3 linked regions of the Homo sapiens genome follow. The protein of the gene in region 1 purifies or fractionates together with the protein of each later gene. This does not show direct contact. Each region holds a gene or a part of one and is shown in the gene's direction. Other genes may lie near its edges.

Region 1 (3,755 bases):
TTTTCTTGTAGGGACCCTCTCTCTGTTATTTAGGTTGACAGTCACTAAGGATTTACTATTTCAACAATACTAGCACTGCATGTCATCCAGTATACACTGGGAAAATAAAGTGCCGCAAGTGCATATCCAGGAGACTTTGTGGCCACCAGATTATGAGGAATGCATGTATTTAATTATTTATTTTTGGGACAGAGTCTGTCTCTGTCGCCCAGGCTATAGTGCAGTGGCACCATCTTGGCTCACTGCATTCTCCACCTCCCAGGTTCAAGGGATTCTCAGGCCTCCCAAGCAGCGGGGACTATAGGTACGTGCCATCATGCCTCGCTAATTTTTGGATTTTTAGCAGAGACAGGGTTTCACCATGTTGGCCAGGCTGGTCTCAAACCCCTAAGCTCAAGTGATCTACCTGCCTCGGCCTCCCAAAGTGCTGGGATTACAGGTGTGAGACACCATGCCCGGCCCATGCATTATTATTAATGTTGAAGTAGATAATTTAACAAACATCAATGAAGTATAAGATTTTTCACTCATAGTTGCAAAATATCATGCCAATTGCCTTCTATGAGCTGTCATAAGCCACAGCCTAGAGATTCAATTCCATTTCAAGATTCAACCAAAGCCAACTCATCAACAAGAACATGTAAAAGACAGAAAAACCCACTACCGGCAGGCTGAAACAGATGCTGTGACGTGGCCCTGGCCTGTCATGGCGTGTCACAGCATGGCACAGGCCTATATCATGTTCCCTAGATTGCTGACTACCAACTAGTTACAGCTGACTCCAATCAGGTCGGGATTTGACCATCTCTGCACTGAACCTGCAATTGCAACTTTTAAAATTGAAACGCTGCTTCTCACCTCTCCTCCCTAGACTCTATTTCACAGAGGAAACCATCACAGGGAAAGCAAGCCCTTGTTTTTTCTTCCTTCTTTGCTTTGCTTTCTTTCTCTCCTTCCTTCTTTCTTTCCTTCCTCCCTCCCTCCCTCCCTCCCTCCTTCCTTCCTTCCTTCCTTCCTTCCTTCTTTCCTTTCTTCCTTCCTGCCTTCCCTTCTTTCTTTCTTTTTTTTGAGACAGGGTCTCACTGTCTGTCGCCCAGGCTGGAGTGCAGTGGCATGATCTAGGCTCATTGCAACCTCCGCCTCCCAGGTTCAAGTGATTCTCCTTTCTCAGCCTCCCAAGTAGCTGGGATTGCAGATACGTGCCCCCACGCCCGGCTAATTTTTGTATTTTTAGTAGAGGCAGGGTTTCACTATGTTGGCCAGACTTCTTTCCCTCCCTCCTCCAACTCTTCTTTTCTTCCTTGCTGTCTCCCTCCCTACCTTCCAACTTTTGGCTGTGTTGAATTTGTTGACTCATCCTGAACAAGCAGAAACTCCAATGATACTGTCACCTAAGAGAGAACTTTGCACAAGGTTGCCATGTTTAATAATTCATTCACAGAATCCTCAATCTCACAAAAGCCTGGAATGGATTTCCTGTTTGGTTATGGCAGGGAAGCTACTGTGGCCAGGCTCCAACTCCTCCCACTGTAGATAGCAGCAGCCTTCTTAAGCAGCCTGTGGCCGGGCACAGTAGCTCACACCTGTAATCCCAGCACTTTGGAAGGCCGAGGTGGGCGGATCACCTGAGCTCAGGAGTTTGAGACCAGCCTGTCTCTACTAACAATATAAAAATTAGCTGGGAGTCACGGTGGGCGCCTGTAATCCCAGCTACTCGGGAGGCTGAGGCAGGAGAATTGCTTGAACCCAGGAGACAGAGGTTGTAGTGAGCTGAGATCGCACCACTGCACTCTAGCCTTGGCAACAGTGCAAGACTGTCTCAAAAACAGCAACAGAGAGCAGGACGTGAGACTTCTACCTGCTCACTCAGAATCATTTCTGCACCAACCATGGCCACGTTTGTGGAGCTCAGTACCAAAGCCAAGATGCCCATTGTGGGCCTGGGCACTTGGAAGGTAAATATGCAAATCTTTGCACACCCTTCTTCTCTGGAGGGGCGTTTGGGTGTTTTCTCTTTCTGCATTCAGCCAGGAAAGCCTGGAGGTCGGGCAGGGGTTGGAGAGGTAAGATTCAGCCCTGGAGCCAGGACTTAGGTTGCTTTCTTTTCTCAGAGCTGATTCAGGCTGCAAAGCTCCAAGGCTGGCTTTCCCAGCAGTGATGAGAGCTTCTCTAGCAAGTATCAAATTTCAAGCAGCTGTTGGACTTAAAACTGTTTTCCAGGGCAGTTTCTCTCTCTGGTTCTAGGACACTTAATTGGGCTCAACGTTTCCCCCAAGTCTTGGCTGTGGGTTTGTTGTGGGCTGGGTGGTTGAGGAGAGGATGCAGAGCCCGAAGTCCTTGGCACCCCTTTGCAGATCACGGTGTGAGACTTGGGCTAGCAGCATCCCTATGACCTGGAAACTTGCTAGAAATGCAAACTGGCCAGGTGTGGTGGCTTATCCCTGTAATCCCAGCACTTTGGGAAATCCAGACGGGAGGGTTGCTTGAGCCCAGGAGTTGGAGACCAGCCTGGGCAACATGGCAAGAATCCATTTCTACAAAAAATAAATAAATTTTCTGGGCATGGTGGCACGCACCTGTAGTCCCAGCCACTTGGGAGGCTGAGGTGGAGATTGAGTGTTGAGCCTGAGGGGTCAAGGCTGCAATGAGCAGTGATTGTGCCACTGCACTCCAGTCTGGGCAACAGAGTGAGATCCAAGAAAGCAAGAAAGAGAGAAAGAGAGAGAGAGAAAGAAAGAGAGACAGAGAGAAACAAAATGCAGAGTCTCAGGCTCCAACCCAGGCTACCTAATGGGCATCTGCACTTTAACAAGATCCCTACGTGGTTCCTGTACACATTGAAATCTGCAACATGCTGGGGCTGCAGAGAGCCTGGGCTGGGAGTCGTGAGCACCACCCGGCTGTGTTAACGACAGCTGGCAAAATGTGGTAAGGCACATCCAGGACTCAGTGAGGCAGGTTCCCGAGCCTCTGTTAGGCTAAGTTTCAAGTTGTTCCATCACCACCTCCCTCTGCCTTCTTTGCCATTTCCATCCATGATAGCACTACCCTAACTAGTGATGAGAAGCAGTCTTTGGAGTTCCTCTTCTCTCCTGTCCCTCATGGCTAATGTCCCTGCTGAGACTTCTGCCTCTGGCTCTCTTTCCTTCTGTGCACCCTGATTTTTCTTCTCTTCTGTCCCAAGCTAGAGGTTAGGACCCTCTGCTGCAGCACTGGGTCATCCTCAGGATACATTCTTGGTGTATCTGGAGGAACAGATCACTTCCAGCTTGATTCATGCAGAGCGTCTCTTGCTTGAATAGCAAGATTTGCCCAAAATCAGACCTTCAATCCTGTATAAACAGAATAAATAATCACTTCCAGATCTCCAGGGAATCTACTCACCCTGGGTGAGTTTACCAGACAGTTTCATAATTTTGGAATTGAATGAAAGAATTATGAAGGGAGCTGTCTTCAACACGTGGGGATGATAGACTAAAGGATTATGAACTTAGCAGTGGAGGTGAAGAAGGGTGTAGCGTAGCGGTTGGGGGCACAGGGCTGCTTCTGGGTGCCTGGCAGCAGCTCGTTTCTTGTCCAGGTGGTAGGGTAGCTGTGCATCTCTGTTTTGTGTACTGTTCAATGTTTGTTATCTCACAATTGAAGAGGTTTAAAAGACCATTTTGTGAGAGATCAAGTTTTAAGTGCTTTTTTGCCCCCATCATTGGCTTGGCTAGGTTAGAACAAAATGTGATAATTCTATTTCCCTTCTTTTC
Region 2 (3,755 bases), on another chromosome or scaffold:
CACTACCTATAACAGTGCCTGGCTCATAGTAGGTGCTTAATGGAGGATTGTTAAATGAATGAATAAATAAGGAAATTAAAGCTTATAGTTATGAAATGGCCCCCAAGGTGGGTTGTGCAGTATCAGAACTGGAGCCTCAGTCTCCATGCCGATTCCCTCTGCTTTTTGCCCCTACCCTAACTTCCACACCACACTACCACTTTTAACTTAATAACAGCTGAGAGAGAATGCCAAAGCCATATGCCAATATATTAGTACTAGAGAGCCTGGCTTCTTTCCCTTGCACCTCTTTCCTGCCTCTTTGGAATTTCACATATGGCCAGTCTTCCTCACTGAGCTATAAAAAAGGAGGGATAAGGAACTTGTCGCAAGCTGATAAGAAGTTACTGTGTAATGGAAAACAGTCTAGGCTGAAAGTCCTGAGGCTTTGTTTTTATTCTCCTGATGTTTAGTTTATCATGTTTTTAAGTTTAGCTACATTTAGCTTCATCAAGACATTACTCCTCTGAATTTCACTTATTATTTATAAAAAGAGAACCATAATACATTTTGTGATTCTATATATAGTATGGTATATCTACTGTTGTGTAAATGATATACTTAAGTTGCTTTTAGAATAGATGGTTATTTAAAGAAATCCCATAATGAACTATTTTATAAAATAAGTAAATTTGAAGGGGAGTGTGTTCTTAAAAAGTATGTGTACTTTATTAACTATTTTTAAAGATGCAACCTTAACATTTGTACATGGTTTCCTTGTTCATGATCTAACTCCCTCGTCAGTTGTGTAAGCTGTAGGCTTGTGCTGAACTTGCCTTGATAAAAAGGGGTGATTAAATAAAAAGAAATGCTAATTTTAGGAATATCAAAAGCTTATCTTGGACTTCATCTGAACCACAAAGGTGGTACAATTGTTATAAGTGGCATATATTCAAAAGTATCATATGATATCATAGTTTTCTTTATGTTATCAGGGCAGAGAGTGAGAATTATGTTTGTGTACTTCATTTGTGTGTAAAAGAAAATGCAAAAGCTTTAGACTTAGAAAATCTACTGCTTAACTGATTGTGTGGTCTTGGGCAGGTCCTTAACTTTCTGTACCTTGGTTTCCTCATCCGTAAAATGGAGACAATAATACATGCCCAAACTACTTCATAGAGTTGTGATGATTCAATGTAAAATAAATCATCTGTAAAAACCAGAACAGAATAGCTCATACCTTTAGAGTTGTGGATAGCAGACATTCAGTTGAGGTCTGTTAAGTATATGACTTGATTATTATTGAATCCTGGTTACAAGAAGAACAATCTGAATCCATATAGGACCCTTCTGAGAATTCAAACTGCCATGTTTTTCATTTTCAGTGTAATAATATTTTGGGAAGAGGACTGGGTGTTGGATCCTTATTGGTCCCAGGTGTCCTATTTCCCCAACCTCCATGGGGAAATGGAAGCACAGTGAAGTCAAAAAAGACTTGCTCAAGTTAGGAGTGGATAGTGGTAGAATTAGATTAGAGTTAAGATTTTTATATTCTCTAAATCACAGGCACTTTACACTTCACGCCTTGTACTTAATGAGATTTTATTCCAACATATTCATTTTTAGGATTGCACATAATCTTGATCTTCAATCTTAAAACCTCATTATGAATGCTAATTAGAAAGACTTGTTGCGGAAATGTACAGTTGCATATAACCCAGTAAACAGGCCATTGGCTGGAGGGTGAAATCCAACACAACTGTCTGCATTGCTATAAGATAAACTTAACCTAAATCGGTATTTCTTAGACTGTTAGATCACATTTTTCTGAGAATAGCTTCAAAGGAAAAATATTTTGCAAACTTAGATCTCTCTGGCAACGATCATGAAAGTTCCTTAATTCAAAAACCTTTGTAGATTTTAATGTTATTCCTAAGTAGATCTTAATTGTACCTCAAGTGCAGTAGATTGGGAATAAATCTATTATACATTTTTTATACCTTACCTGAAAGTAGGCTACATTCACCCAGTGGTTCTTACCCAGAGGTGCACCTCAGAATCATCTGAAGAATGTTTTCCAGAATTCACAACTTGGGCCCTGGTCTGCACCTGTTGACTGAGAAACTCCTAGATGATTTTCAAGTGCACTCCTCTTTAACAACCACTGGCCTAAGTTGAAGATGAATAGCAGGGATAATGCTAGGCATAAAGTATCTGAAAATTTAGTAGTAGCAAAGGCAGAGACTTGAAAACTCAAGAAAAAATAGGTATGGTGGTGATTTTAGACAATTTTTTTCTATTTTATGACTGCTGCTTTTACTGAAAAGAGTAATTAGAAGAACCTAGAACCTCATTAGAAATATGAGGAAATAGATGGCTACTATCTTCCTGCCTTTAGGAGACAGAAGAAGCCTAAAGAACCTATTTTGGAGACTAAAGTCGTTGAAAGAAATTAAAGGACTAGTACTGAATAGTGGTGATACTCAATATTAAGTTTAACAACTTAACAGTTGGATGCTTAAAATATGCTGAATTGTACACACACACACACACACACACACACACACACACAAAACTGATCATGTATGAAAATATCCCAAGATAATCCAGAAAGAATAATTTCTGCCATTCAAACATTTGTTCATTCAGCAGATATTTATTAAGACCCTGGAAAATACTGAGGAGAGAAAGATTATCCCTCCAGTCAAAGACTTTACATCCAGAGATATAATCAAACAGGTTTAAATCCAGGGTCTTCCACCACACAGCCCCTTTTGTTATGTAGTCAGTCGCAAAAGTCGTAACAATGCTATGGGCTGCTATAATTGAAAGGTTGAATGGCTTCGTTTTTGGTTATCTTTCCAAACTTTTCTATAAATGTATTCTTCCTTTGAGTCTTTTAGAAAAGAGTTTAGATGTTTGTATCTTGATGTGGTTTATCTTTATTTAAACCAAATGAAGTGAACAGCTAAATGAAGGAAATATTTGCATTAGACTTGAAGAGTTAGCTACCCCAATTTAATTACCTTCCTAGCATTGTTCTCAATCTTCTGGGATAGGCACTGGGAGAGGTGTGAGAAGCCTGGTATTGACTTGACTGGATCAGCAACCCTATCTATGCTACTCTCCCTTTTTGATTTTTCCAAATGAATATTAAAGGGTTGCCCTTGTCTTGCCTTTGGGATTAAGTGAGTAACTTTCCACAGGAAGTGCCTTGGGTACTGAGCTGACCTTCTGCCTTCTACTTTGTGGATCTTCGCCAGGCATACTTGAATCAGCAAAGAGGGGTTTGCAGGTCTTGTTTCTTGAATATCTGTAAAAATAACTGCTTTAGCCTTTTTTGGAGGATATTTTTGAGAAATATGTATTTCTCAAACACACACATATGTATTATATATATATACACGCAGAGAGAGTTTTTACTTCAAAAACTTTTAAAGAGTAAATAATATCATGAATAATTTCACTAATGTTTTTAGTTAGGCAAACCTAGAATTTTAAAATGTTGATTTTGAATTTTATGACTGATTTGGAATAATTCTGGCAATTAGTTAATTACTCATCTGAGGCATTCATTTCTAGTGGTCTTAATTCCCTGACTCCATAGATCTGGCATGATGTTTGAAATCTGACTTTCTAAAATAAATATTTTTCTGTAGGTGGTCTGCTGTGTGAATAAATAATTCCTGAAGAATGAAGAAGATTAATTTTGGGAGTTCTTTGACGAACTTTGATATGTGGAAAAAGTATTTATAATTTATTGTAAGAAGAAAGTA
Region 3 (3,655 bases), on another chromosome or scaffold:
GGCGATCTCGGCTCACTGCAACCTCCGCTTCCTGGGTTCAAGCAAGTCTCCTGCCTCAGCCTCCTGAGTAACTGGGATTGCAGGCATGTGCCACCATGCCCAGCTAACTTTGTGTTTTTAATAGAGATGGGTTTTCTCTATGTTGGTCAGGCTGGTCTTGAACTCCCGACTTCAAGTGATCCACCTGTCTCAGCTTCCCAAAGTGCTGGGATTGGAGGTGTGAGCCACCACGCCTGGCTCTCTGCCACCATTTTCAAGAGTATTGTCATCTGCCTGAGCAAACCTGGTTCATCACCACCTCTTTGCAAGAGAAAAAGGAAGTCGGGAGAATTGTGTGTAATTTTTTTTTTTTTTGAGATGAAGTCTCGCTCTTGTCCCCCAGGCTGTAGTACGATGGCCCGATCTTGGCTCACTGCAACCCCTGCCTCCTGGGTGAAAGCAGTTCTCCTGCCTTGGCCCCCTGAGTAGCTGGGATTATAGGTGCCTGCCACCACGCCCGGCTACTTTTTGTATTTTTAGTAGAGATGGGGTTTCACCCTGTTGGCCAGGCTGGCCTAGAACACCTGACCTCAGGTGATCCACCCACCTCGGTCAGCTGTGTGTATTTTAAGGCAAAGATTCACAACCAAAAACAAGGCTTTATTAACTTTTGTATCTAAGAACCTGCAGTGTCGAGCCCTCTTTTATTCCTAGTATTACTACTTTAGGTGTGAACTTTTTATCTTTATTTTACTGATTCCTCTAGAAGTTTATGCATTTTCTTGACTGCTTTAAAGACAATCTATATTGTATCATTTTTCAAGCCCGTAGAAATGTGTAAGGCCTATAATTTGAACACTTGTTATTTTTAAGGTTATGAGCATGTAATATACCGTTGATACATGGAAGAATATGTATAAATACCACTAGATAGGTTATATTGAAGAGATAATATCTAAATTTTTGTCCAGAGTTGATGGGGTGCAGTTTTGTAGGTGTGTTTCTCAATACATTGTGTCCATGTTTTAAAGCATATAGAAATTTGAATACTGTTTAACCTCATATAGTCCTTGTTTATAGGTTTAATATTTCTAAAGACTAAAGACGTCACAGCTCCCTTTAAGATTCAGTAATACTAATAAAATTTGAGATATACAGGGTTAGAGTCCAACAAATTCAAAGGAAAATTGTTGAATTATATAGCCGTAGAGCAGGAATGAAACCCAGGTTCTAAGTTCCAAGGGGGCCATGAGCTACCATACAGGTGCATCAGTGACTGGGCATAGAGGTGGCAAAATTATTTAAGAGAGTGAGCTGTGGATCCTAATTATGTGAACATGAATTTTTGAACTGCATGGTGCCTCAGTTTATCCATCATTACAGTGGGGACAGTAGTAAGTTTTTCTTTTTCTGCTCAGTTGTCTGAATTATTACCCCAGTCTCTCTTGTTGCCACTCTTGATGCCCACATGAGAGGATCTAAGGTAATTTCTGACAACCTGGGACTCCTTAAGGAAAAACAGAAGGTTCCACAAACCCCATTTTAGGAGAAACCTCTGTTTTCCTCATGGAACCCCAAGAACTTTAAGCAGACAGGTCCCTCTCAAAAATCTAAGGCTCTGCTCTGTTTTGCCTTGCGTTGTCTGACCTTTTTGGTTTGGATGGGCATCAGAAATTAGTAGGGGAGAGAGATCTAAAGAAAATTGTGGATATGAAGATGTATTTATTGTAAGAAATGTTATGAAGGAAAGAAATGTTATATGAGAGAGGATCTTATATGGCAAATTGTTGTCCTAAAGTAGAATGACTAATTACAAAAGAGGGAAATACAGGACAGGTCAGATAAATTTAATCATGTTGTAGATAGTCTGTGGAAGTTGTGTTATGATTCATAAAGTGGGAAAGAAAAACTGAACAACTGCTAGATCTTTTCTTGTCTAGAAGTGTTGTGTATGTGATGTATATATAATGGCTCGGCTTAAAAGAAAATGAAAGCTCTTAAATATTTTGTAAGAAAAATAGAAGCTCTAATGCCTTTTATTTCATGTGACTTCAGTAATCTTTGGGAAATAAAGATGGTGTTAAAGTCAGTGGTAAAATAAAAATATCTTCAAAATTTATCCATTTGGTCTAACTTAAGTCAGAGGTTAAGTTTTAGAAGTGCTTTAATGTCATAAATTGATGCTTTGACTTTGGAAAATAGTTTTGTTTACCTGGTTTGGAGCCGTTAGATTTCTAGGTAAGGTCTCCGGACAGGTGGAGTTAGCCATGTCTCCTAGCTATGCTGGAAGGAGTCAGATTTTATCTGCAGTTCTGTCTTGTATCCTAGACTCTGCACCTGGTATGCAATTAAAACTTACTGCTGCTGCTAATCTCTGGGTTCCATTTAAAATCCTTCCATCACATGAATACTATCCCCTGTACTAAATTTTTCCACAATTAAATACTTAGAATCATTTTTGCTGACTTGACCCAACCATTAGTGATATATTTTAAAAATGCTTATAATGTGTCACAATATATTTAGCAAATGTAGGGAATGACATTTTTACTTTCTTCAGCATTTACATAGCATTTATGTAGCAATGCTATCTCAAGTATTTTTAATCATTTAAATGTTAGATAATAGATATGTTTTTTATTCCTTTTTTCTATGTAAATAAATATAATTATGAGATATTTAGTAAATAGTATCAATTGCATATGTCACTTACAGAATATACAATGAAATTAGGATTATTTTTATACACTACATCATATTTACTTGTTGGCTTTCCAATAACTTAGAAATAGTATTCTGGATTAACTGTGTGACTCATGAGAGAGGGAGTTTGTGCAATTATAGTCTTTACAAATTTTTACTAGATTTTTCAAGACTTATGCTAGAACTTTGAGAACAAGGTAATAAATAAGCATATCTGTTAATATCACCTTTGGTCAACTCTTGGCTAGACCCAATGATAATGTAGGAATTAACATAATTTTTCTACTAAAGGTGTTGGATTTGTTCCGAGAGACCACAGTTCAAAGTCATTGACAAAGAAAGTTTAAAAATTGTTAGATTAAAACCTTTTAGTGTGTTTGAAATTGTTTTGTAGAAAAATATCCTGGTTTGCATTGATAGGTTTTTTTTTAAATAACAACTAGACCAAGAGAAAGGGAGAGTAGTGATAAATGTCCATGTTTTCGAGTTGAAAAGTAACAATCAGTGTATTACAACAGATGGATTTGATGTCAAATTACAAATGCTGAGAACGTTATATGTAACTGACTTGCCAGAGTAATTATACAAGGCAAAGAAAGGAAAGGCATCTAAATAGGAAGGGAAGGGGTGAGATTGTCTGTGTTTTAGACTCCACAAAAAACCCATTACAGCTGATAAACACTATATTCAATAAAGTTGAGAGTTACAAAATTAACATTGGCTTCTATACACCAATGACAAACTGTTATCTGAAAAATAAGGTAATTCCATTTATAATAGCAACAAAACAAATATATAAGTAAATCAAAGAGCAAGGAGTAATTTTAATGAAGGATGTGAACGATTTGTATACTGAAAATTATAGCACATTGATGAAAGAAATTGAAAGTGACAAATAGAAAAAGTCCTATATCAATTGAAAAAATTAATATTGTCAAAATTTCAATGCTACTCAAAGCATTCTACAGATTAA

The links.
Region 2: the proteins of AKR1B10 (region 1) and COX17 fractionate together in Homo sapiens (co-fractionation; one large-scale study listed by BioGRID). This does not show direct contact.
Region 3: the proteins of AKR1B10 (region 1) and POTEF purify together in Homo sapiens (affinity purification with mass spectrometry; 3 studies listed by BioGRID and IntAct, with this or other methods). This does not show direct contact.

What each region holds. Positions count from the first base shown.
Region 1 is NC_000007.14:134,526,023-134,529,777, forward strand, and holds the start of AKR1B10 (aldo-keto reductase family 1 member B10), read left to right. Parts: upstream 1-1,544; 5' UTR 1,545-1,889; coding exon 1,890-1,955; intron 1,956-3,755. UniProt on the Homo sapiens protein: Catalyzes the NADPH-dependent reduction of a wide variety of carbonyl-containing compounds to their corresponding alcohols. Displays strong enzymatic activity toward all-trans-retinal, 9-cis-retinal, and 13-cis-retinal.
Region 2 is NC_000003.12:119,669,549-119,673,303, reverse strand, and holds part of COX17 (cytochrome c oxidase copper chaperone), read left to right. Parts: intron 1-3,638; 3' UTR 3,639-3,755.
Region 3 is NC_000002.12:130,122,606-130,126,260, reverse strand, and holds part of POTEF (POTE ankyrin domain family member F), read left to right. Parts: intron 1-3,655.